Linked DNA regions of Homo sapiens: region 1 is reported to be linked to region 2. Evidence: microRNA targets listed by miRTarBase, many of them from high-throughput screens and not tested one by one. Region 2 holds a microRNA gene; the other region holds the end of a gene's coding sequence.
The links. The annotated mature microRNA hsa-miR-664a-3p reads UAUUCAUUUAUCCCCAGCCUACA and lies in region 2 at 1,454-1,476, shown strand. An mRNA with a match to its seed (bases 2 to 7 or 8) in the 3' UTR can be bound and repressed. Matches are read on the target gene's strand: a 7mer-m8 pairs with bases 2 to 8, a 7mer-A1 pairs with bases 2 to 7 and ends in A, and an 8mer does both.

Region 1: the mRNA of SNRPB2 is a reported target of hsa-miR-664a-3p. Seed matches in the 3' UTR shown: 8mer at 1,050-1,057.

Annotation. Positions count from the first base shown.
Region 1 is chr20:16,740,453-16,745,527 of GRCh38, forward strand. SNRPB2 (small nuclear ribonucleoprotein polypeptide B2) reads left to right here. Exons shown (of 7, transcript NM_003092.5): 7 at 394-2,112. The coding sequence ends at 553. Among named protein-coding and RNA genes, the nearest start is that of OTOR, 5.4 kb to the right of the region's middle.
Region 2 is chr1:220,196,950-220,202,024 of GRCh38, reverse strand. MIR664A (microRNA 664a) reads left to right here and starts at 1,406; the gene lies at 1,406-1,487. All of the region lies in intron 9 of RAB3GAP2 (RAB3 GTPase activating non-catalytic protein subunit 2), which reads left to right. It overlaps SNORA36B (small nucleolar RNA, H/ACA box 36B), which reads left to right and starts at 1,349; the gene lies at 1,349-1,479.

The DNA.
Region 1 (5,075 bases), not on the chromosome of region 2:
CTCACAGGACAAGTAGTACTTCCGTGGGTTGAATCCATTTATCACACAGCAGTAATTCCTTACAGGTTCATTGATTTGGTTTGGGATGAATCATGAATTGGAGCCAATTTGCCGATTTAGCAAATACAAAGCTAAATTTCCTCTAATGTTTGAATTCTTAACTCTGATTGATGTAATAACAAAGCTTTGATATAATATAAAATAGAATTAGTTTATTCTTGCAGTTCTTCCATGGTATTAATTACACATGAGGCTCTTCCGTCTACTCAGTATTCTTGGTTAGAGTATGGTTATTTTTCTTGGACTAGTATTAGGAAGTTGCTTAACAAATTTTAACACAAAGCAAACATTTATGTACTTGCTGTATACATGAATTGTTTTTCTTCTTTATAGGTTCCCTGGCTTCAAGGAAGTACGTCTGGTACCAGGGAGGCATGACATTGCTTTTGTTGAATTTGAAAATGATGGGCAGGCTGGAGCTGCCAGGGATGCTTTACAGGGATTTAAGATCACACCGTCCCATGCTATGAAGATCACCTATGCCAAGAAATAACATTTGGGATAGTCGTCTTTAAAAGACTTGGTGTTATTTACAGTGTTTGTTTTGATAACATTTGGCTGGGTCATTTTAATAGTTAGAGATGAGGAGGAGTAAAAGTGAAATTTTTGTGAAGGACTTAAATTATCCAGTGTTTCTTTAGCCTTGGTGAACTATGAAATACGAAGGCCTTAATTTTGTACAATAAACTTTTATTTGTATTCTGTGTATATAATGCTTTCTTGATTGACCCATCTCCCTATCATCAAATGACTTCTAGTCTAGAACACACTTAAGGTTTATAAACTTGTGTAATAGGATGCTTTTCTAGTGTTACTTTGGAGGAGCTAATTATACAACATCATTGAACCATTCAATAAAAGTTAAGTAAAATTAGATCACAGAAGCTAGTAGATGACTGTTGTATTAATGGTAACAATGATTGTTCTGGGTATTAGAAGAAAATGAGACCCAGGCAGGATCTAAATTTGATCTTTGTATCCTTTTAAGAAATGAATATATTATTTTGCTGCTAGTAGGGATTCCACAAGTTTTCTTCATTCAGTATTAAATAAAGGCTGTTCTTACTGTTTACTGAGAAAACAGAAAGGGAATGCTATCTTCACACTTTGCATTTAATGCTGTTTCCTTCATGAGGCAGGACTGTTCTAAGGTTAATATGCAATCTCTTTATTGAAAGACCTCCAGGGTAAAAATTTTTTGATCTATAGTCTCTTTTCCCCCTTAAGACAAATAGACTGATTAATAAAGAGTTGCCAGTGCTAAGCTTGCTACTTCTTTGTAATTCTTAAACACCAATGTTCAAATATTTCCAAAGCCCATTTTCTTTAGCTTTTGATTTATGTTTAAGGCTATTGATTCAGTCCTCTGCTGAGTAAACCATGGGTATCTCCAGAAGTGGACAATTTGTTTTTACAAGTATGGTACATATTAATAGTAACAACAACAAAAAAGAAAACAGTACTTATTTTTCTGGTGTTCCTGTTTTAGTATTCCTTGAACAAAACCTTTATCACTTGGAATTTTTATTGTCTACTTATGGAAAGACTTTTAGACTTACGTAGACAGTATCACATCACTCTTATGCATACATAAAGAGGAAAAAAATGTTTCCTATAACTTTGTCACAGTTAGTCTGACTCTTCTGAATAACTTTTTTAATCCCAGTAGTCAAGCTCCTGTACTTTTGTAAAATATATTAACAGTGAATTACTAGAAAATGGGCCATGTTCTTGTATATTACAGTGATGTCAATTGCTGATAAATTTTCTAACTGCTTACTCTCGGATACCGTACTTGTCTAAGAACTGAAAATAATTCACAGACTGATCCCATGCCCAGTCCTGGCCATGCTTTGAGTGGCTGTATTGGAGCAGAAAAGCCAGGGTGGCTCACCTGGGGTGAGAATGAGGGGGGTGAATAGTAAGAGGGGTCGTGTAGGTCTTCTTCAGGATTTGCTTATACTCTGAGTGAAATGGGGGACTATTTTAGAGAATTTTTTTAAAGTGGGTTAGAATTTACGTACAATAAAGTTCACCCATGTTAGTGTTCCATTTGATGAGTTTGGGCAATTGTATATAGTCATGTAATAATCAGTACAGAGCATTCCATCACCCCCAAAATTTCCCTTGTACGCCTTTGCAGTCAATCTATTCCCCTCTACCCTTGGCCGTAGTCAACTACTGATCTGCTTTCTGTCCCAACAGTTTCGCCCTGTCTGGAATGCTTTGGAAATGTATCTGCTGTTGCCTATATCAGCAGTTCCACCAATGAATGGGCATTTGCGTTCTCCAATTTGAGGCTATTAAGAAAGTGGCTATGAAAATTTACATACAAGTCTGGGCATATGTTCTATTAGATTTCAAGCAGAAGAGTGATAGTTTGATACAATTTCTAATTTACATAAAAGTTGCAGAAATGGTACACAGAACTTTCATAACACTTCAAATTAATCATTAATGTTTCTAGGCTTCTGGGCTATTTGAGGTTGTGATTACATTGACCTGATACCCCATTATTCCATGATACTTCAATGTGTGTTCTTAAGTACAAGACCACCCTCCCACATAACCACAATAATGACCATCAAAACCAGGGAATGTGGCTGGGTGCGACGGCTCATGCCTGTAATCCCAGTGGTTTGGGAGGCTGAGGTGGGAGGGTCATGTAAGACCAACTGGGGCAACAGTGAGACCTTGTGTCTACAAAAAGAAAAAAAATAAGCTGGATGTGGTGGTGTGTGCCTGAAGTCCCAACTACTGGGGAGGCTGAGGCAGGAGGATTGCTTGAGCCCAGGAGGTTGAGGTTACAATTATGTGTGATCATGCCACTATGCTGCAGTCCGGGCAACAGAGTGAGACCCTGTCTCAAACAAAACAGGAAATAATCCCATATTATCATCCAATCCAAGTTTTGTTTATATTCCAATAATGGCTCAAGAATCCAATCCAGGATTGTGTTGCATGTAGTTGTCATGTTTCTTTAGCCTCCTGTTGATTCCTCAGCTTCTCCTTGTCTTTCATGATGTGAATTTTATATAGAGATAGTCTGTCTACCTCTGGATATATCTACACAGTTATGTTAAAAACTATGAATGTCTAAGAATGTCTCTGCAGTCTTAACAGCACTGAGTTCATCCTGGCTCTCCCCCTTCCCCTGTGTATAAATCACTTCTCCACCAGTCCCATTAACTTCAATATATTATATTTGCTAATTTTCCCAAATCTTTCCTGTGCAATCAAACTCTATAAGGCTTCAATAGGGAGCAGGGGAAAGGAAAAAGGAGACAGCAATGCTTTAAAGAAGATTTGGTCAAACCAAGATCTTTTGACCTTCCCTATCTCATCCATCTTTTGGGAGTGTGAGTTTTGAGGAATGATTGAAGGGAGTAGATGTTATTTAATATAGTGGTTCTTAACTTTGGCTGCATATTAGAATCATCTGGGAGCCATTTTCAAATACCCATGCTCAATCTACACCCCAGATCAATTAGTCTCCAGGGATGAAACGTAGTCATCAATATTTTTATAAACCCCCCTCCCCCCCCAGGGTGATTCCCTTGTCACCCAAGATTAAGAACTAACAAAGCAGGTTTCTACTTTCATGAAGTAGGGCATCATAGATCATTGACTCAAATGGTGTTTTTCAAAAGTAGTATATTGATAAATAGAGGATAATGTTAATTCTGGAAATGGTTGTGATGCAGGGCAGGCAAGCCTCAAACTTGGGGCTTAGCCCAGGAGGATTCTTGGCTTCATCCAGGAAAGAATTCAAGGGTGAGCTCATGGTGGTAAACAGCAGTCTTTTGGTAAATAGTGTTGCCCCTTGCAGAGCAGGGCTAATTCATACACGGTGTGCCCAGAGTTGGCAAAGTATTGGCTCTTGGCAACTGCATTTATACCCAGTTAAACTCACTTTCGGTCACATGCAAATTAAGGGGAGGCTCAATACAAATTGAGGGGCAGATTATTTAGAACTTTCTAGGAAAGGAGTGGTAACTTCTGGGTCATTGCCATGGAAAGGGGTGGTAATTTCCAGGTTGTTGCCATGGCATTTGTAACTGTCATGGCACTATGGGAGTGGCTTATGCTAATAAACAATGAAGACAGCTGAGGATCGCTTTTCTTGACATCTCCTTGTCCCTGCTGGTTTCTTCACTTTTTACTGCCTGGACCAGATCCTGTTCTGGTCAGCAGGGTGGTGACCAGAAAACAAGTTCTTCTGGTCTCCTACCTCAGTTGCAAGAAACTCAAAACTCCATTTTAAACTTTAAGCCTTATAGTATCTTCTGTTTGAGTATTTAACAAGCATTTGTTTTTCCTTGAAAATATATCCAGCCAAGACCTTATGAAGAATGTGAGCTAAAATTACGGTATTTTACTTGCCTGGAAACAGTACTTCTCAAATGTTAATGTGCATACAGGTGACTTGAGTATCTCATTAAAACGTAGATTTAGATTGTGTCTCCGGGGTGAGGTCTGAGAAACTTCATTTCTATAAAGTGATGTCAAAGTTACTGGTCTGGGGACCATGTTTTGGTGGCAAGTTGCAAGACCCCAGAGTTTCTACCCTAATGATTTATTCAATGACTCTTAGAGGTGTTATCAATCTGTTTTTAAAGCCAGGGACTTTGCCCAGGGGAAAAATGCATGCATACACACACACACACACACACACACACACACACACCCCTATGCGTACAATTTCGGAGCAATTGTGCATTCATTCAGTGAATACCTATTTAATGCACACCAAGTATCTTTCCGGGTGCTAATGACAGAGTGAGGAACAAGATAGCAAAGATGCCTGCCTTGTGGAGCTTTCATTATACTGTTGGTTGGAAGACAAACTAAGTAAATAAAGCAGGCATGTCAGCTATGATACATGCCTTAGGACAGTGTACTGCAGCCACGTGATACAGGGATTGGGTGGAGGAAGGTTTGAAGTGGCTCTTTTAAATTGTTCTGTCTGTGGAGGCATCTTGGCCAGGAACCTGAATGCCAGTATCTGGGGAAAA
Region 2 (5,075 bases):
CCTGGCTGATTTTTGTATTTTTAATAGAGACGGGATTTCATCATGTTGGCTGGGTTGGTCTTGAACTCCTGACCTCACCCGCCTCAGCCTCCCAAAGTGCTGAGATTACAGGCGTGAGCCACTGCACCCGGCCAAAATTTATTCTTATGTGAAAAAATGCATTGCCTTTAGTGAGACATCTGGAAGTTAGTTCAGATTCAGATCATCATAGGCATATATCTTTAAAACTGGGCATGATGGCTAACACCTGTAATCCCAGCACTTTGGGAGGCCGAGGTGGGTGGATCACATGAGGCCAGAAGTTCAAGATTAGCCCGACCCACATAGTGAAACCCCGTCTCTACTAAAAATACAAAAATTAGCCAGGTGTGGTGGTGCACACCTGTATTCCCAGCTACTTAGGAGGCTGAGGCAGGAGAATTGCCTGAACCCGGGAGGTGGAGGTTGCAGTGAGCCAAGATCACGCCACTGCACTCCAGCCTGGGTGACAGAGCGAGACTCTGTCTCAAGAAAGCAAAACAAAAACAAAAAGAAATGGTAGCAGTTTTAATAAAGATTTAATTATGCCCTCAGCCACAGTATTGTACAGTTTTAAGTCACTCACTGTTTGACTAATTTTTCTACAGACAAATTTGGTCTATATAATGACCATATAAATCAGTCTTAAAAATGTAACCTTGGTCAAGTGTGGTGGCTTGCACCTGTAATCTCAGCTACTCAGAAGGCTGAGGTAGGAGGATCTCTTGAGCCCAAGAGTTCAAGACCAACCTGGGCAATATAGCGAGACCCCATCGCTTAAAAAAAAAAGTAACCTTTAAACTAGTAAAATATAGATAAAAGCAGATTTCTTCTTGCAGCCACTATAAGAGAGCTTACTGTGTTAGGTACTGAGGGTATAGAGATGTAAAGACATGCTTCTCTGTTGTCTGAAAGTGTGAGTCTAGGAGCCTGGTTAGAAGAAACACATGAGAATGGCTACAATACTACAACATAGTAATTGTAACAGACAAGGGGACCAGCTGTAGTGGGAGCAGAGGAGGACACACTTATTGTTTCTCCAGCACACCATACACTTTTATCCCTAGATCTATGTGCATGTGGGCTAGAATGCCTCCTCTGTGTTTGTTCACTTGGTCAAGTTCTACTCATTCTATGCAAACTGGACACTGGGAGAGAAAGAGCAAGGAGAAGAGGAAGGAGAGTGACTCTAAAGAGGCTAAGGATATCTGACACACAGGCCATCTTTCTATTTACTGCATAGCTCTTACATGGAATACTCTGTAATAAAAACCTATTGGTAAACATTTCAGTGTGTCTACTTTTTTGCTAGCATAAAAATGCTGCAAAATTCCAAAGTGTTAAGTTCAGTTCAGGGTAGCTTCCCTGCTCTGTTAATTAAACTTTGGAACATTGAAACTGGCTAGGGAAAATGATTGGATAGAAACTATTATTCTATTCATTTATCCCCAGCCTACAAAATGAAAAAAGGTACAATAAACGTTATTGTATGTACATCTTTATGTAGAGGTCTGGTTAATTTATTCAACAAATAAATGAGTACCTATTAATATTTGTGCTAGAAATACAAGATAGGACCCCACCCTGATAAAGCTTACGTTTTGGTGATGGGGAGACAAACAATAAACTAAATGAATATCAAACTCTTAGTGGGCATCATGAAGAAAATAAGTAGGTTATGGTAGAGAGTAAAGGAAGAGGGTGCTTTAGGTAGACTAGTGAGGAAAGGCCTCTCCAAGGACATGACATTCAGACTGAGACTTGAAGGATGAGAAGGAGCCAGCTATGGAAAGAGGTGTAGGAAGAGCATTCTAGGTAGAGGAGCATCAGGGATATAGGCCTGGGAGCCTTGAAGACCTCAGAGTGTTCAAGAAACAGAAAGGGGGTTGGTGTGACTTGACTGTAAAGAGTGAGGGGAAAACAGGACAAGGTTAGGTTGGAGATGCAGACTGGGGTTAGATCACGTAGGGATAAGGAGATCCGATTTTATTCTAAATGCAGTGGATGTCACTGATGGATTCTAAGTAGGGGATTACATTTAAACATATCTCCCTGTTTGCTGGGTAGAGAGATGCTTGTAGAAGAAAGCAAGGAGACCAGTTATTGCAATAATTCACCCAAGAGAGAATGATGGCTTTATGGTGGAGGCAGTGGAGTTGGAAGGAAGTAGACAGATTTGAGATACCTTTTGTACTTGCTCAGGGATGGTTTTGAGAAACAAGAGGAAGGAAAGAATTAAGGGTTTCTTAATTTTTAAGTTTGAGCAACGGGCTGGATGATGAGACTGTTTACTGAAATGAGAATAAGGAGGAGGAGAGGAAGAGATTTAAGGTAGTCAAATAAAGAGTTACGTTTTTACAGGTTAACTTCTGACACAGTTAAACATTCAAGTAGAGGTATCAAGTATACGAATTGGACATGAGAGTCAGAAGTTCAGGGAGGAAGCTGGGAATGTACATATAAATTTGAGAGGGAGTGGTTTACTGTGGAATGTTTCGTAGAGTTCAAGAAAAGAAGAAGGTCCATTGGATTTGACAACATGGAGTTATTTACTTACTGACTTTTGATATGAAAGTTACAGTAGAATGGTGAGGATGAAAGCCAAATTAATATAGTCTTAAGAATAAATATTTTCACCCCCTGCTGTCTAAAATCACAAACAAGGAGCATAAGAAATAGATTCCCAGTATCTCCATTTTTATGGAGTCCTGACCTCTTGCTGAAGCCTCATACTCATTTCTCCAGCTCCCTACTGAATAATTTCTACCTAGATGTCAAACTTAACATATCCAAAATCGAGTAATTTCCTCCTGTCAAACTTGCTCCTCCTTTTTTTTTCTACATCATCTTTCTTCTTCTGGTTGCTCCTTACCGTGACATACAAGGCCCAACTTTATCTGGCTTATGGTACCTCTGACACTGTCTCCTGTAGGGTTCCCCTCCCTGTTCATTGTGTTTCATCATGTAGATCTCCTTTGTGTTCCTCAGACACAGCAAGCATATTCCTACTCTAGAGCATTTAGAATTACTGCTCCCTCTGCCTGGAAAACTTTAGCTAGTCACATGGCTTTCTCCCTCTCTTCACTCAGGTCTCCTTATATATCACATTGTCAAAGAGGCCTTCATTAGTCACTCTACTAGGCCTAGAAAATTATCCAATGAGTTTGACTTTATGGAAACTTATATTGAGAGGGACTTTGATGTCTTTCAAAGTGTGGGAAGGCCTCAGACGCTCAGGGAAAATTCTAAATGACAAGGTAATAATAACTCCAGAAAAAAAAGAATGCACAGCCAAGGAAATGTAATTACAGTAAGTAGCATGTCTCAGCAGTGAGTAATGCTTATATCATTCCTAATAATAAAAACAGTGAATTTAATAAAACGTTGAGATACAAATATTTTGGAAGGATATAGGGCGAGAAAGAGAGATGTAAATAAGCCATACCACCTTAAGTTAATGAAAAATAGTGCTAAAATCAGTGACTCGAAAGATAAAAGCCCCCTAAATTCAGTACCAATGTGTAGCAATATAAAGGGCAGAAAAACACTTTAAATAATACTATAGGAATGTGGTCAGCTGTAGACTGTGGGAAATTAGTCTCAAACAGCCTTGTTGCTTCAACAAATAGATTTCAAAGGATCGAGGATGGGAAGGAAGGGTTGAGGAGGTCAGAAGGATTTTGGACCAAGCTTTATGTCCATTTGTTTGTGGTTCTTACTTTGAAACCCAGAGGTATTGTTTTTCTTAGCAATGATCAGCTATTTTGCTTCAAGAGCAGAGAATGCAGAAAGTTTAGGTCAACCAAGATTAAGATTTAGCCAGAGGAGTATGTGTGTAGGGGGAAACGAGTGTAGGGAGGTTGTGGATATTTGCAAGAAAGTGATGATGATGGAACACAAAGCTAAGCTGGATGGAAAGGGAAGTGATCCCAAGAGGTACTTGATAAATAGTGGAAAAAATAGTAGGATTAATTAGTTTAAACTCGAAATTGTGAAATTACTGCAGGGAGTTTCTGGAGTAATTGAGATGGAAAGCTAGGAGGTGGTGGTCTAAGTGTGGTAAGCTTGAAATCAAAAATACAAAGAATCTACAGTTGCTGATGACAGGATCTAAAGTGTGACATTGAAAATAGATGATTTAAGTTATAGGAAGGAAAACATCATTGGTAGCAAGGATGGAAAGGATTGATCAGCCATTTCCTTACAATAAATTAGAATCCTTTAAAAAAATTGCATATCTATTGCAAAATTGTCCTCTGGATTACTGTGTAGTAATTTATACTCCCATGTATATTGCATGGGAGTTTAAAAAGAAGCTGTTTTAAAACTTAAATTTCAATTTATGTGCCATATAGTTTGCCCTTTGATCGTGTTTTGGTGGAGTCAGGCAAAACTTAAGCAAATTTTGTAATGTAGTGAAAACATTTTGTATACTGAATCATGGATTCATTCATGACTATGAGATAGGTGTTCTGATCTTTTATAATGGTCTAGGAGGTGGGAGGGGAGTTTAAAAAATAGTCCAAGGATTTGTTTGATCACTTTAATTCCTATAAAGCCAGTGAATGGCTTGCGTATGAACTCACTCAAAGAATTTCCTTTCCTAGGACACGTCTTAAGGACGAATGCATTTTTTGACAGTTTTCAGGCAAAGGGGAGGCCTGAAATATATGTATATGAAATTTAGTAAGGTCAGGCACAGCAGCACACGCCTATATTGGCTGGGCACAGTGGCTCACACCGGTAATCCCAACACTTTGGGAGGCTGAGGCTGGAGGATCACCTGAGGTCAGGAGTTTGAGACCAGCCTGGCCAACATGGCAAAACTTCGTCTCTACTAAAAATACAAAAATTAGCTGGGCATGGTGGTGCGCGTCTGTAATCCCAGCCATTCGGGGAGGCTGAGGCAAGAGAATCGCTTGAACCTGGGAGGCAGAGGTTGCAGTGAGCTGAGATTGCACCATTGCACTCCAGCCTGGGCGACAGGGTGAGACGCCATCTCAAAAACTAAAAAAAAAAGAAGTGAATTGGTATTTGGGGATATAAGTGGACTGTAT